Linked DNA regions of Homo sapiens. The protein of the gene in region 4 purifies or fractionates together with the protein of the main gene of each other region. This does not show direct contact. Each region holds a gene or a part of one and is shown on either strand. Other genes may lie near its edges. The genes, in order: RNF139, INSIG1, SOAT1 and ERLIN1.

Region 1 (4,555 bases), on a different chromosome or scaffold from region 4:
AGCTGATTCTAGTTTAAGGCAAGTCGAGTTTCAGAACTTTGGAGATTTGCAGTTGTAGGAGTGAAAGTAGGTGAGTATTCAGATGTCATTCCCATTGTTGAAACCTTGGATAATAATGTGTTTATTGTAATCCTACTTAAAATATGCATTTCTGTCAGAGTACAAAGAAAGATGGTGTCTATGGAGTGGGGGAAGGAGAATTACCATTTTCTAAAAACATGTCTTGGTTTTCTGAGTGTTACTTTTGTAATGTGAAGAACAATAAAAAGAGTTGACTATTTTAAGAAACAGATTCAGCATTATACAGGAAAAAGGGAACTTGGAAGATGTTTCTAAGTCCGAAGGAAACTAGGAGGAAAAAAAATGGAATTTTGGACCCTTTGGAGAATGCTCAGAGTTAAGGAGTAGGAAATAAGAGCTGGCATGAGTTCACAGTTTGAAGAAAAGGAGGAATTAAGTGGAAGTATAAAACTTGAACTTGATTTCCTAAAGAATCCTTTAAAAAAAAATCTAAAACTTGGCTGGGTGCGGTGGCTCACGCCTGTAATCCCAGCACTTTGGGAGGCAAGGCGGGCGGATCACTTGACGTCAGGAGTTAGAGACCAGTCTGGCCAACATGGTGAAACCCCGTCTCTACTAAAAATACAAAAATTAGCTGGGCATGGTGGCAGGTGCCTGTAATCCCAGTTACTTGGGAGGCTGGGGCAGGAGAATTGCTTGAGCCTGGGAGGCAGAATTTGCAGTGAGCTGAGATTGCACCAGTGCACTCCATCCTGGGCAACAGAGTGAGACTCTTGTCTCAGTCAGTCAATAATAAATGAATCTAAAACTTAATAGGAATAAATGTTTTCCATTTGGGTTATTTTTAACCCAATTTTTAAAATTAATTTTAATGATTATGAAATGATAAAAGACATATTCTTTTGAGTTTTAAAACTTGTTAAAATGTATGTACCACTACAAATTCATCTTGAAAATAATTTAGTAATTTGGTGCCTTGGACAGCTACAGTGTTACTTGAAATACTTTGGAAATTAGAAAGTAAGGAATGAAATTTTAAAGAATAATTTAGTATGTTTGGTCTGTTCTCCTGAACTCTGACTTTACAAAACCTTTATTACCCTTTAAGCCTTAGTTGTCTTGAGGCTTAATGTTCATAACTGAAAATATTCATATTTCCTAATTAAAGGAAGAATATCATAACTCTTAGTGGGGAAACATTCTTACAAATACTTCATTCAAATGACTTTTTCTTTCTTTCTTTTAGGTGTATTTGCATCCAGTATTGTTCTGATCTTGTCACAACGATCACTTTTCAAGTTTTACACGTACAGCTCAGCCTTTCTGTTAGCTGCAACTTCAGTGTTGGTGAATTATTATGCTTCTTTGCACATTGACTTCTATGGTGCCTACAACACGTCAGCTTTTGGAATTGAGCTGCTTCCTCGAAAAGGTCCCTCGCTGTGGATGGCACTTATCGTTCTACAGCTAACATTTGGAATTGGATACGTTACACTACTCCAGATTCATTCCATCTATTCACAATTAATTATTTTGGATCTCTTGGTTCCTGTAATAGGCTTAATCACAGAGCTACCATTACACATCAGAGAGACTTTACTGTTTACTTCTTCCTTGATTCTCACATTAAATACAGTGTTTGTCCTGGCAGTGAAACTGAAGTGGTTTTATTATTCCACACGATATGTTTATCTTTTGGTGAGGCACATGTATCGAATTTACGGATTACAGTTATTGATGGAGGACACATGGAAGAGGATTCGTTTCCCAGACATACTACGAGTCTTTTGGCTAACAAGAGTTACAGCTCAGGCTACAGTGTTAATGTACATCTTAAGGATGGCAAATGAAACTGATTCCTTCTTTATTTCTTGGGATGATTTTTGGGACCTCATTTGCAATCTTATAATTAGTGGGTGCGATTCTACACTAACTGTACTGGGCATGAGTGCTGTAATTTCCTCAGTAGCCCATTATTTGGGGCTTGGAATATTGGCCTTTATTGGATCAACTGAGGAAGATGACAGGCGTCTTGGCTTTGTTGCACCTGTTTTATTTTTTATTTTGGCTCTTCAGACTGGGTTAAGTGGGCTAAGACCAGAAGAGAGACTTATTCGCTTAAGTAGAAACATGTGCCTTTTATTAACTGCAGTCCTGCATTTTATCCATGGAATGACAGACCCTGTATTAATGTCTCTCAGTGCCTCTCATGTGTCATCTTTTCGTAGACATTTTCCTGTGCTGTTTGTCTCTGCTTGCCTGTTTATTCTTCCTGTCTTACTCAGTTATGTTCTTTGGCATCACTATGCACTAAATACATGGTTGTTTGCAGTTACAGCATTTTGTGTGGAACTGTGCTTAAAAGTAATTGTTTCTCTCACTGTTTATACGTTATTCATGATTGATGGCTACTATAATGTCCTCTGGGAAAAGCTTGACGATTATGTCTACTACGTTCGTTCAACAGGCAGTATTATTGAATTTATATTTGGAGTTGTAATGTTTGGAAATGGGGCTTACACTATGATGTTTGAGTCGGGAAGTAAAATTCGGGCTTTTATGATGTGCCTACATGCATATTTTAACATCTACTTACAAGCCAAAAATGGCTGGAAGACATTTATGAATCGTAGGACTGCTGTGAAGAAAATTAATTCACTTCCTGAAATAAAAGGGAGCCGCTTACAAGAAATAAATGATGTATGTGCAATCTGCTATCATGAGTTTACAACATCTGCTCGTATTACACCGTGTAATCATTATTTCCATGCACTTTGCCTTCGGAAATGGCTGTACATTCAAGATACTTGTCCAATGTGCCATCAGAAAGTATACATCGAAGATGATATCAAGGATAATTCAAATGTATCTAACAACAATGGATTTATTCCACCCAATGAAACTCCAGAGGAAGCTGTAAGAGAAGCTGCTGCTGAATCTGACAGGGAATTGAACGAAGATGACAGTACAGATTGTGATGATGATGTTCAAAGAGAAAGAAATGGAGTGATTCAGCACACAGGCGCAGCAGCTGAAGAATTTAATGATGATACTGACTGATGAAAATAGCATTTATTAATGATTGAGGTATTTGTTTAAAATTCAGTTCATCCAAAATGGAGTAATATCCTTCACCTTCAGTGTGTAACCAAGCACAAAAACAGTATCAATGTTGAATCTGTGAATGGTTTTCCGTTTACTGTGATGTGCTACTGTAAATATACCTCTTTAATTACTTCTGGTCTCTTTGGTGACCTGTTTAAATTTGTGTACATTATTGTACATAGAATAAAATGTTTTCACATTTTTATGACAAAATTTGAACAAATAGCTTTTTAATAGATGTAATGATCATATGGTGCGTCACCTGTGCCAAATATTCTTCAATGAAATTATATAATGTAACTTTGGACCTCAGTTTTTCTTTAGAAATGGGTGGGAGAATGAAAATGCAAATCAGGAAACCACATTAAAGTCAAGGAAATAAAATAATTTGACCAGAGGATAAAGGACATGAGAGAGTATTTTAAAACTAAAGAAAAAATTAGCTGCCAGAAGCAACTGAGGACCTTTTTTGAAACTTGAGTAGCAGTGTAATTGAGCTGAGTTTGAAAGTCCTGATTCAGAGAGAGACTGAGGGTTGACAAATAAACTGTATCAACTAAACTTTGATATAAACCAGAATGTGCTAAATGTTTTTTATGTAAAATTGTATATTTGTTAGCCATTCTGTGTCTGCAGTATTGTCATAAAATTGTCCTTTCATTCTTTTGAAGATATTACAAAACAAAAATAGTTTTTTTTAAATTGTTTTAAACTAAGATACTCAATGATATAAAAACATCCTGATCTGATTTTACGAGAAAAAGAAGGGGAATGGTGGGGAATGGTGTGTACCGATATATAGTATTTCTTTAGACAACTTGCAGATAATTTCTTTATTGAAACTATCAGGAAGTTTTACTATGAAATTTTACATACATGATGGAAAGTGGAAGACATATACCAATTATATTCCAGGAAAAAATACTTTAATAGTATTGTTATATAGTGTATTGGCTAATTCCAGTGGATCCTCATCTCTCACTGCTGACATTATCTCCAATATTTGACTAAAACAAAACAAAAACAAAAATGGTTAAATCTCCAAGTATACATTTAGTTCTAAAGCTATATAATATTTTTCCACACAAAGGAAAATATTGGCACACCTTTAATATAATAAAGCTTAACAGTTATTAAGTTTTTCAGCAATATCAATAGAAAAACTTACTGCCAGTAACTGGAAACAGATTTATGGACTGTCTTGCATATAACTAGAGCTAAGAACCAGGTTCAAGTAAATTATTAAAGCAGCCATCTGTATTATGTTCACCAATTATAGCATTAACTGAGTGGAAATGAAGAGTCCTTTTCAATTGTGAGTCATAGCATGTTCATTAGTGGGTCATGATGAGCATTTTAAACATTGACAAGTACATTGTACTCAATAAGGGTAAGTACTGTTCCATTTTTTGTTAGGTTTTATTATGTA
Region 2 (3,816 bases), on a different chromosome or scaffold from region 4:
GGATTTGAGGCTGAGTTTTCTCTTCTTGGTCTGGTGTTCTTTCCGCAGCTTGAGGCTTGACCATGCGGGAACCAGATGGAGAATAAGCGAAGCCTGTGTGGGGCTGTCTCGCCCCGTACTTGCCCATGTGCATGTGTGCACAGTAGGTGCTCAGTGCCTCGTACAGAACATGCTAGAACCCCCGAAAATCAACTCCAGGGCCACTCTAGGAGCATGTGACCCAGACTGTCAAAGTCACATCAGCAAATATGTATCTCATCACGTGCCCAGCCCCAGTACTGGGTGGTGGCAGGAGTGTCAGAGCTGTGATGTGACAGGGTGTGGACAGATGCTAACCTTTTTATTGTAAGATAGAAATCACACCGGATGAAAAGACAAGGTGAACTACATAGTCATTTAAGTTCTGTGTGCTTTAGGCAAATGTGGATATTAAATATAAGGTTACATATTGCTCATATTAATATGAATAATCCCTGCTTGATTCCTTCCTGTGTTTACTGAGACATGTTCAACTACACTAAATAATAGTGATTTTTAAAAAACTTTTCCAAACAGTACAATTTTGTGGGAGTGGTACTCAAAGAGAACAAGAATATAAAATCACTCTGAAGTTATAGCTGATAATTTTTTCTAGGAAAAGGACTGGTTTGAGTAATGTACTGTGTTACTAATGACCACGTTGAAATTCTGGAACTTGAATCTGCTGTATTCTAACATTGTCAACTTTTTTAAAACAGCTGTTGTTGGCCTACTGTACCCCTGTATCGACAGTCACCTCGGAGAACCCCACAAATTTAAGAGAGAATGGGCCAGTGTCATGCGCTGCATAGCAGTTTTTGTTGGCATTAACCACGCCAGTGCTGTATCCTTAATTTTCTGTGCTACGTCCAGAGTATCTTCTTAGGTTATATATTGAAGCGTTTTGTTTTGTTATATACTCAAATGACTCCATGTCATAATACAGACATGATGGTGGTACCTACCCATTTCAGATTACTAAAAAGAGAAAGAAGAATGGGGCTATCGATGACTTCATAGTAAAATATATTGTTTTATGGTCAAAATAAATATATATTTATTTATATTTTTATATATATTATATATATTTTTAAATATATATAATATATATAATAAATATATATTTATATAAATATATATAAGCACTTTATATATAGCTTTCAGCAAGTTTATTCTTATGGTTAAGTTTTTGACTCAGTGATGGCAGGGAGATTTCAGGTGATCTTAATGATTACTGTAACCTGTATCCAACAAATCCTTTCTTTAGCTTATTACACAGTTTTTATGGACAGTGAATTATCTGTGGTACAATAATAAAATACCCATGTTTTTAACCCTTGTGGTTTTACGTTTTTTTATCTTAATAAGAGTCAGCAAACTTTTCCTTAACTTTTATATCACCAGAAATTGGATTTTGCCAATAATGTCCAGCTGTCCTTGACTTTAGCAGCCCTATCTTTGGGCCTTTGGTGGACATTTGATCGTTCCAGAAGTGGCCTTGGGCTGGGGATCACCATAGCTTTTCTAGCTACGCTGATCACGCAGTTTCTCGTGTATAATGGTGTCTATCAGTAAGTGTGTGTTTTCAAATATTGGCTTTGGAAAGCTTACTTAACTTTCATTAAAACATCCACTAAGCTTAGATATTTTCATATTTTATTTGTTTTTTATATAGAATGATACAGATTTAGGCATGAAATTCTCAAAAATGCTGCTATCCATAACTTAATGTAACGCAAAGGAAAACCAAGTAGTAGCAGTTACAACCAAACAAATATGAACATTCGTAACATTGGATGGTTGATATGCGTTCTGCATATCCCCACTACAGAGAATCTGTGATGTAGAATTGAGCCAGGTGAAATTGACTGCTAAGGTACAGTTTCTTTTCTCGCTCCAGGTATACATCCCCAGATTTCCTCTATATTCGTTCTTGGCTCCCTTGTATATTTTTCTCAGGAGGCGTCACGGTGGGGAACATAGGACGACAGTTAGCTATGGTAAGTGAAATGATCATATTATCTTCTAAAACTTGCGTCTCTTTACCTTGATAGAATGACTTTACATGATACATTCAAATTTGCGTTCATATATTCTGGTTCAGACTTGAGTGACAACTACTGAGAAAAGCTTATATTTAAAAAAATAGGTAATGATACCCAGGTAATTCTTTGCTAAATTATAAAAATTCATAATATTTGATCTAGAAAAGGAACTAGAGCCCTCGCACTGCCCCTTTGAATTGCAGATGTGGTCAGTGTTCTGAATTCTTGAAATTTCTGTAGTAAGCAGTAGAGAAAGTGACTGGTGTGTGAGTGTCCCCTCCTCCTTCACCATCGGAAGCAGATCTGGATGACCTCATGCAGTGATACTTTGCTCCCTGAGCATCAGTCCACCAGTGTTTCTTTTCACAAAATCAGAGTGGATGCAGATGATGCTGGCCTCTTAGTCCACAGTCAAGCAAATCGAGCCTGAGGCTGCAGAGTCTGTCTCGGGCCAGGGCAGGGACTAATGTGGGTGGGCAAGGGGACAGCCTGGTTCAGGCAGGCAGCACCTTTCTGTGGGGCAGGTGGCCCTGGGCATGGAGAAGTGGTGATGAGAGCACCGCTGCACGTGGCCGGGTCACCATGTAGACGGACTGTCCTGCCTGAACATTGCATCTGTTCTCAGCTGCAGGAGAAAGCAGTGCTACCCCGCAGAGCTTCTCTCACAGCCCCCCTGAGGGAGACGGAAAGGTAGTGAACTCCAGGATGGCTTTAGCAGTTCTCATTAGTTAAAAATTGACATCTTAGCACTTCAATTTAAAAACATAGAGGTGGACTTTTAAATGTTATTTTGAGTTGACTTTGGCAGGCTGAAAGAAAGTAAATTAAAAAAAACAACAAAAACCTAGAGCTGTTGCTCTCGGAGATAAGCTCTGGGAAAACTTATCTTAGTACCTCATGCTATTTTTAAAACAGTACATTTATTTTTGCCAGCTGATACCCTTCTGTGAGGAGTTGAATTTGAAGACCACTTGGCTGTTTCACAAAACCAGAAGTAATTACAGGTAGAATTTGCAGTCTTCCACTGGTTACTGACTCTCTGCTGCCAAATTTCTCATGATGGAGAAGAAAGGACTTTGCTTGCCTTTTTTTTTTTTTTTTTTTTTTGAGACAGAGCTCTGGAGTGCAGTGGTGCCATCATAGCTCACTGTAACCTTGAGCTCCCGGACTCAAGCAATCCTCCCGCTTCAGCGTCCCGAGTAGCTGGGATTACAGGCACATGCCACCATACCCGGCTAACTTTTTTGCTTTTTGTGGAGATGTTATCTCCCTGCCTTGTCCAGGCCGGGCTCGAACTCGTGGGCTCAAGCCATCCTCCCACCTTGGCCTCCCAAAGCACTGGGATTATAGGCGTGAGCCTGGCCTTGCTTTTTTTAATATTAAAAATCTGGTCGGATGGTCCCACATGGAAATAGTATGTTGTTTTCATGCATTCGCCATCATCCCCGTTAATAGTCTTCAAAGGAGAGCTGGCAACTCCATCATTGCTTTCTTGCTTTGAGATTTTTGTTTCGGTACTCTTTGGGAGAGAATTCCTAAGAAGGTTTTTAGAATAAAATTGTCCTCAACCAGATTGACTAATTACACATTATAACTACAACTTGAATAACATTTAAAGAGTTGGTTATTTCTGTTTGATAGGTTGGTGCTGTTATATGTCAAGGCTTTTTAAATCGGTTTTAAGAAATAAGCATTATTTTGGTGGAGGTAGAAATTTCACAACATTCATAAGTTCTAAACATCTAGAAATGGT
Region 3 (3,816 bases), on a different chromosome or scaffold from region 4:
CCCTAAATCACGGAAGGAGAATTCTCCCCAGTATTGGCTCATCCTCCTTTGCATAAATTTCACATTTTATATCACACTAAAACTAGCCCATATGCCATATAAATATGTCATATATAGCTAACTAAGAGCCTATCAATAAACCTCATTATGCCAACTCAAGCAGCAATGTTTACATTCCTGGTGGGATCCAGCTGTTGATATTTAAGTTTAATTAAATTTAGGTAGGAAAAACAAAACTGTTTCTTTATGAAAAGAGATGAAATGCCAAAGACAACCTGTCTCAGAAGGTTCCGCACCTATTTGTTAACTAAACAATCCTCAATTTTCAAATCCTTGTTGAAATCAAACCTTTACAAATGTCACTGCAAAAATTAATACCCTGATGCAATAGATGACATCAATTAGAGTTGTGTTTACAAGTCTATCATTCATAATCATAAACCTTGACCTTAACAACAAAGGACTATCGTATTCCTCTTTGTAGTCAGGCATTAAGCAAACGTGGATACAAGAACTAATAAAACTCCCTAACTACTCCTCTCCCAAGATTTATAGCTCAGTATTGAACTGGGTTAGGCACCCTGCTAATTACTCACATTTTACTCATTACATCTATTATGAAAGTAGTTAATTACAAGAATATTACACTGTGATAAATCTAGTTATGTGTATGATTTTGGAGGTTTTGTCATTCACTTAACTTGGAGCTCCATAATGGCAAACAAATCCGTACTGATCACTGCTATAGCCCCAGCATCCAGCGGGGGACCTCAGCAATTATTGGTAGGTTACGTGACTGAATGAATGGTCTCTAAAACACAGCAGATACCAATAGATGACCACCAAATTAATTAACGAGAAAGGACTTATTGTCTAATTGCTTTGTTACTAGACATATAAAACTCTATCAATACCCATTTACAATAAAGAATTAAAGAGATGGCAATACTTATTCTATAACACTGTATTTGTTCTCTATTTCACTAATTCACCTAAAAAAAAAAAATTAAGCCTCACCATTACTAGGTGTCTCTAGGGACTCCTTTGCAGGGTTTCTCTGGTCTTCATCTTCCTCAGGATTTTCCCTGGACTTTGACAGCCGGTTTCTTAGAGACATCTTCTCTTCACCCACCATTGTATTGTCTAGGAAAGAAGGTGTAAAAAGCTTTCGTATTAGTCCGTTTTCACACTGCTATACACTACCTGAGACTGGGTAATTTATAAAGGAAAGAGGTTTAACTGTCTCACAGTTCCGCATGGCTGGAAAGGCCTCAGGAAACTTACAATCATGGCAGAAGACCAAGGGGAGGCAAGGCATGTCTTACGTGGCGGCAGGAGAGACAGAGCAAGGAAGTGCCACATTTAAAACCATCAGCTCTCATGAGAACTCCCTCACTATCACGAGAACAGCATGGGGGAAACTGCCCCCATGATCCAATCACCTCCCACCAGTTCCCTCCCTAGACACGTGGTGATTACAGTTAGAGATGAGATTTGTGTGGGGACACAGAAGCAAACCAATATATCAGCTTTGAACTAAGCATCTGGCTTACGTGAATTTCACAATACCACTATATTTAGGAGAGGTGAAATGTGATGATACATTCTCTTCCTTTTGCATTAATCATTTCAAAGCATTTTCTGGGTACAAGATACTCAAGATAACAAATCTGAAGAAATCAGGTCCTATAAAATAATTGGAATGGTTTTGAAGCCCCTTTTTAAACATAGACCCCACTCTTAAAGAACAATTTAGTTGAACAAAGCATTAAGTATGTAAAAAAAAAAAAAAAAGGATTAAATAGTAACAGGTAACTACAAAGATGCCACAGGGTGGAGTATGATTTAATAACAAAGTCAATGGTAAAAACAATACCTTAAGTTCAGAGACAGCAGAGATTAGCAGAAGATGTAAAGGTTTCACAGAAAAGAAGGTATTTTAGACACAGTCTTGAAGGATGAGAACTGTGCATTCCATGTGCAAGAAAGGATTAAAACAAGGACCTTATAAGCCCCGTTCAGGGAACCATGAAGGAATTGAACTACGACAAAAACAAGTTTTTGTTAAGTATCTACTAAGTGCAAGGACCCTGCCAGATGCTTTAAGTTTTCTCATTTAATCTTCATAACAATTCTGAAAAAAATTACCCTCAGTTTTCACATGAGAAAACAATGATTTAAAGTAGTTACTATCAGTGTCCTCCACCCATGTACCAGGAATACACCTGCAGTTGAACAAGCTGAATTTATAGGAATGCACACCACAGCCCCAGGTACTAGAGTCTGCTTTTCTTCTCATTACAGTAACTTGCCCAAGACCACACAGCTAACGACAGAGCCCGATTGGAACTGGCATTAGTTGGATCCAAACTACAAAGACCACTAACTACTGGGGGAAAATAGTTGGTAATGGAGAAATGTGATGAGGGAAAAGACTAGAAAGGAGGACAGGAGTCAAACTATAAAGGCCTAAGAAATTAGAAGTTTTTCAGGAAGGCAGTGGTGAGACACTTTAAGCACTAAAAAACATGATCAAAGATCAATATCAAGATAGTACAAGGTTTACTCTAAAGCCATGTGTTTCCCTAGTTGGGCATGGTGGCACACAGCTGTAGTCCCAGCTACTTGGGAGGCTCAGGCGGGAGGATGACTTGAACCCAGGAGTTTGAGTCTGGCATGGGAAACATAGCAAGACCACATCTCAAAATTATTTATTTATTTATTTATTGAGAAGGAGTATCGCTTTGCCCAGGTGGGAGTGCAATGGTGCAATCTCGGCTCACTGCAACCTCCGCCTCCTGGGTTCAGGCAATTCTCCTGCCTCAGCCTCCCGAGTGGCTGAGATTACAGGTGACTGCCACCACACGTGGCTAATTTTTGTATTTTAGTAGAGACAGGGTTTCACCATGTTGGTCACGCTGGTCTCGAACTTCTGACCTCAAGTTATCCGCCCGCCTCAGCCTCCCAAAGTGCTGGGATTACAGGCATGAGCCACCGCACCCGGCCAAAAAAACAATTTTAAATAAAAAGTAAAGCAGTGTTTCACTATGTGATAAAGTTTTCAAGAGTCTAAAGCAAGAAGAAAACAACTGTGAAATACTCATTACATTATTTTAAAGCTATATATATTTAAATTCTGAGACTACAGTTTTTCTTAATTTTTGTACTAAAATATCCTTTTCTGTATAAAAGGATGAAATATAGTACATGGTGGGTTTGGTTGTTTTTCAACTATCACAGCTTGGCAAAGTAAAAATCTGACAAATCTAGATCGGCTTTCTTCTAATTATTTCTGAAATCAAACAAATGAAACAATTGTGGAACAGCAGATGAATATATCAAGTAGAAATGTTATGATATCATAAGATCTAATTAAGAGGAACTTAAGGGAAAAGTCAGGGCTAATAAATCACAAGACGATGCCCAACTTACAATGGTCCAATTCTGTGTAAAAGTGACAGAGGAAGCCACAAGAGCATCTATCTCTTCATCAGAAATGATGAGAGAAGTAAGAACTGAAAACTAAACTTTGAGGGACAGCCTCAAAGTAGAGGAAATCAGGGAAGAAAAAGAAAGACACAAAAGGAACCAAGATGTTTCAGTAAGAGAGGAATTTTACAAGGAATAATGGGAATTTTTTTTTTTCTGGCCAGATGAACAGAGACTTTTTTTTTCTGGCCAGATGATGGGGAATTTAAAGTAGATACTCTTTTAAAGAGCATATAGCAAAAGTTTAAAGCATAAAAGACAGCAAAATGAAGCCGGGTGCGGTGGCTCATGCCTGTAATCCCAGCACTTTGGGAGGCTGAGGTGGGC
Region 4 (3,034 bases):
CCACTTAACCCCTTGGGCCACATCTTGATATGGAGAACATTTCCACCTCTTGCATCAACCTGTGCTCTCTTTGTTTTGGATGACGTTCTCTCCAGAGGGTTCAAGAGCCTCCTTAGAGGGGAGTGAGCTTTCTCTTCCAGTCCTAATATCTGAATATTTCAAAGCACATGAGGAGTCCACGAACATGTTAGGGATGTTGCTGCCAAAATAGATCTTACTGTTAGAAGCAATGGCCTGGTACTTTTTGAGCTCCAGATATTCCGGGGTCAACTTGTGCTGTGTGGGAGCAAACAAGAGCAAAGGCATCAGAATACTCTGGTGCAACAGTCTTCTCTCTCCCTATATACATTTCACCTATTGCTCTCCTGAGTATCATGAGTCAAGTCTGAATAACTGCCAATGACCCTCTCTCACTTTGGAGAGTGGCTATCACATTAACAGCTGCGTTCCTGACTTAAAATTCCTTCATTAAGCTCCTGACTTAATGCAAGAGAAGCTGTTCACTTTTTAATAAAAGGATGGGGGAGTTGGAAAACAATTTGTGATAACTAATGATAATAACTAATATTTCTAAAGTGACTTTCATTTCATCTAGTTGAATTCAACCTGGAATTGGTCTGGAGTTTCTGTTGATTCTCTTTTCTAAAAAAATTATTTTTATTTTTGTAGAGATGGGGTCTATGTTGCCAGGCTGGTCTCAAACTCCTGGCCTCAAGCAATCCTCCTACCTTGGCCTCCCAAAGTGTCGGAATCAAAGATGTGAGCCACTGCACCCAGCCTTTTTTTTTTCTGGAGATGAGATCTCACTCTGTTGCCCAGGCTGGAATACAGTGGTTCAATTATAGCTCGCTGCTGCAGCCTCAAACTTCTGGGCTCAAGAGATACTCTCATCTTAGCCTCCAGGGAGGCTACAGGAATGAGCCATCATGCCTGGTTCTCTGTTGATTCTCTTGAGAGAGATACACAGGTCAGTGGATGAGAGCAGAACTTCAAAGGAAGGGCTGGTGCTCATTATCTTATCATTAGCTGTGATTCTGCTTTTCTTGAACAAATTCTAGAACTAGAATAAAATCTCAAGTTGTCACCTGATCTGGCCTTCTGCCTTTCCCCAGAAGCTGGATGTTTAAGCTGCTTGTGACAGACAGATGTTTGTCGACCACCAGATCTATGTGACAGTGTTTTGTTTAAATCAGGATGCCAAGATGTATCTAACCAGAACCTATCTGGGTTTGATTAAAACTCGTCGACCACCAGATCTCCCTCTGTCACACTGTTTTGTTTTGTCTAAATCAGGATGCCAAGATGTATCTAACCAGAATCTATCTGGATTTGATTAAAACCCATTTCCACTGTTCCCTGTAACATATGCCTTTCAAAGCCCCTCAGACCCTGCTCTGTGATCCTCTCCTTATCTTGAGTCCTGGCCTGTCCCCCAGGCAAAAGTCCATCTTGTCCTTCACAGTCCTACAGCATTTATTTTCTACACTTTGACATCTTTCACTCTTTGGATCTCTATCTTCTCCAGGTGATTCATATCCTCTGTCGAAACACTCCAATCAAATCTGGTCATAGTGCACAACCACATTTCTTCCTCAAGCCTTTTTAATATAGGTTAGTATCTGAGTCACATTTTTCAAAATGGCATAAAACTACTGCCCCTTTCTGAATAAGGTAGACCTCAATGGCAAGGTCTTGAAACTTGTGCCTGACGAGCTTCTCCCATTAGATTTGGACTCCTAGTTTCCTCAACTGGAGTTTCCTGTCATGCCTTTCTTTTGGCCAAATTCCATTCTGTGTCTATAGAACTGTGTCTTTCAATGTTATGTTCATTTTAAAATTTATATTGGTTTTCAAAGTACTGACAACTCTCATTCTATCATCTTATCATTTCTTCTAAATACGGATTATGTTGTTCCTTTCTAAATTAAAAGCCCTGTCTATATCTTAAAACTTGACTCTAATCCTTCAAACTGCATCATCCACTTTAGTAATCTCTTTCTCAACCCTTTATCTGTTCCAATCTGCTCCACGATAACCTTATAAATCTTGGACATACCCTTCCCTTCTCAGAATACTATCGGAGTTCTAGCTGCCTCTTAAATAGCCCCTGCTCACTAGCCCTGTACCGTCTAGCCAGCTTACCCCAGTCCTTACACCAAATTATCACCTATATATCACCCAACCTGCCTTCTCAAGTTATCCCACATGAAATTCCTCATGACTGGAATAGTTTTTTAAATCCAATAAACAAGGAGTACTCAACAAGGGGCATATGGAAATACATGCATGTGTGTGTGGCAGTTAAAACAACTGGTGACCACTACTGACATTCAGTAGACAAGGGCCAGGGATACAAAATATCCTACAATGCATGAGATGGTCTTCAACAATGAAAAAGTATCTCAACCCCAAATGCCAGGAATGCCTTTGATGAGAAATACTGCTCTAATCAAGCTAAGTATCTACCAAAAAAACTACCTTATTTGGAAAGCAATTCTAAATAGACTTTACTCTTCTGTCACTCTTATTTCAGAAGACCTTCAACTTAATTAATTATTCAGCCTTATATAGCAGTACAAATGAATGGAATTACGGCATTTGGCCTGTGTCCCTACCCAATCAATGTGAAATATTTCTTGCTAACTGACTAATTCTGGAGGATGTCTTGGTCACTACACTTTCTTGACAATGGATAAAATCACTTCTATCATATCAGAGCTCCTGAAAAGAGAAAGCAAAACCCCGAAATGCATCATTAGGAAAGTGGCCAGGGAGCCAGTCACCTTGTTTGAGGTGGCATATTTGTGTGCAGCATAATATTCAGCATCTGCTTTCGCTTTCTCTCGGGCCAGGAATGCAGCATCTAGCAAATAAACAAAGGAAAGGTGTCAATCCATTCCCTCAGCTAGTTAAGAGTCCCTTTCCCCACTGCTTAATATTGTGACTGCTTATTTCACATTGAAAGTTTTAAAAACCTATTAGCAGTTTTCAAGTCCCAGTCCCCAAACAGCAACTTCTCTACGAGGAATACTCT

What was found.
Region 1: the proteins of ERLIN1 (region 4) and RNF139 purify together in Homo sapiens (affinity purification with western blotting, with the first as the bait; one study listed by BioGRID). This does not show direct contact.
Region 2: the proteins of ERLIN1 (region 4) and INSIG1 purify together in Homo sapiens (affinity purification with western blotting, with the first as the bait; one study listed by BioGRID). This does not show direct contact.
Region 3: the proteins of ERLIN1 (region 4) and SOAT1 purify together in Homo sapiens (affinity purification with mass spectrometry; one large-scale study listed by BioGRID and IntAct). This does not show direct contact.

What each region holds. Positions count from the first base shown.
Region 1 is NC_000008.11:124,484,564-124,489,118, forward strand, and holds the end of RNF139 (E3 ubiquitin-protein ligase RNF139), read left to right. Parts: intron 1-1,267; coding exon 1,268-3,081; 3' UTR 3,082-4,030; downstream 4,031-4,555. Other genes in the region: deoxyribonuclease TATDN1, read right to left, coding at 4,031-4,133. UniProt on the Homo sapiens protein: E3-ubiquitin ligase; acts as a negative regulator of cell proliferation through mechanisms involving G2/M arrest and cell death.
Region 2 is NC_000007.14:155,300,829-155,304,644, forward strand, and holds part of INSIG1 (insulin-induced gene 1 protein), read left to right. Parts: intron 1-737; coding exon 738-862; coding exon of another isoform or gene 863-892; intron 893-1,422; coding exon 1,423-1,589; intron 1,590-1,918; coding exon 1,919-2,018; intron 2,019-2,996; coding exon of another isoform or gene 2,997-3,067; intron 3,068-3,816. UniProt on the Homo sapiens protein: Oxysterol-binding protein that mediates feedback control of cholesterol synthesis by controlling both endoplasmic reticulum to Golgi transport of SCAP and degradation of HMGCR.
Region 3 is NC_000001.11:179,300,004-179,303,819, reverse strand, and holds part of SOAT1 (sterol O-acyltransferase 1), read right to left. Parts: intron 1,144-3,816; 5' UTR 1,136-1,143; coding exon 1,018-1,135; intron 1-1,017.
Region 4 is NC_000010.11:100,152,077-100,155,110, forward strand, and holds part of ERLIN1 (erlin-1), read right to left. Parts: intron 2,864-3,034; coding exon 2,784-2,863; intron 277-2,783; coding exon 55-276; 3' UTR 1-54. UniProt on the Homo sapiens protein: Component of the ERLIN1/ERLIN2 complex which mediates the endoplasmic reticulum-associated degradation (ERAD) of inositol 1,4,5-trisphosphate receptors (IP3Rs).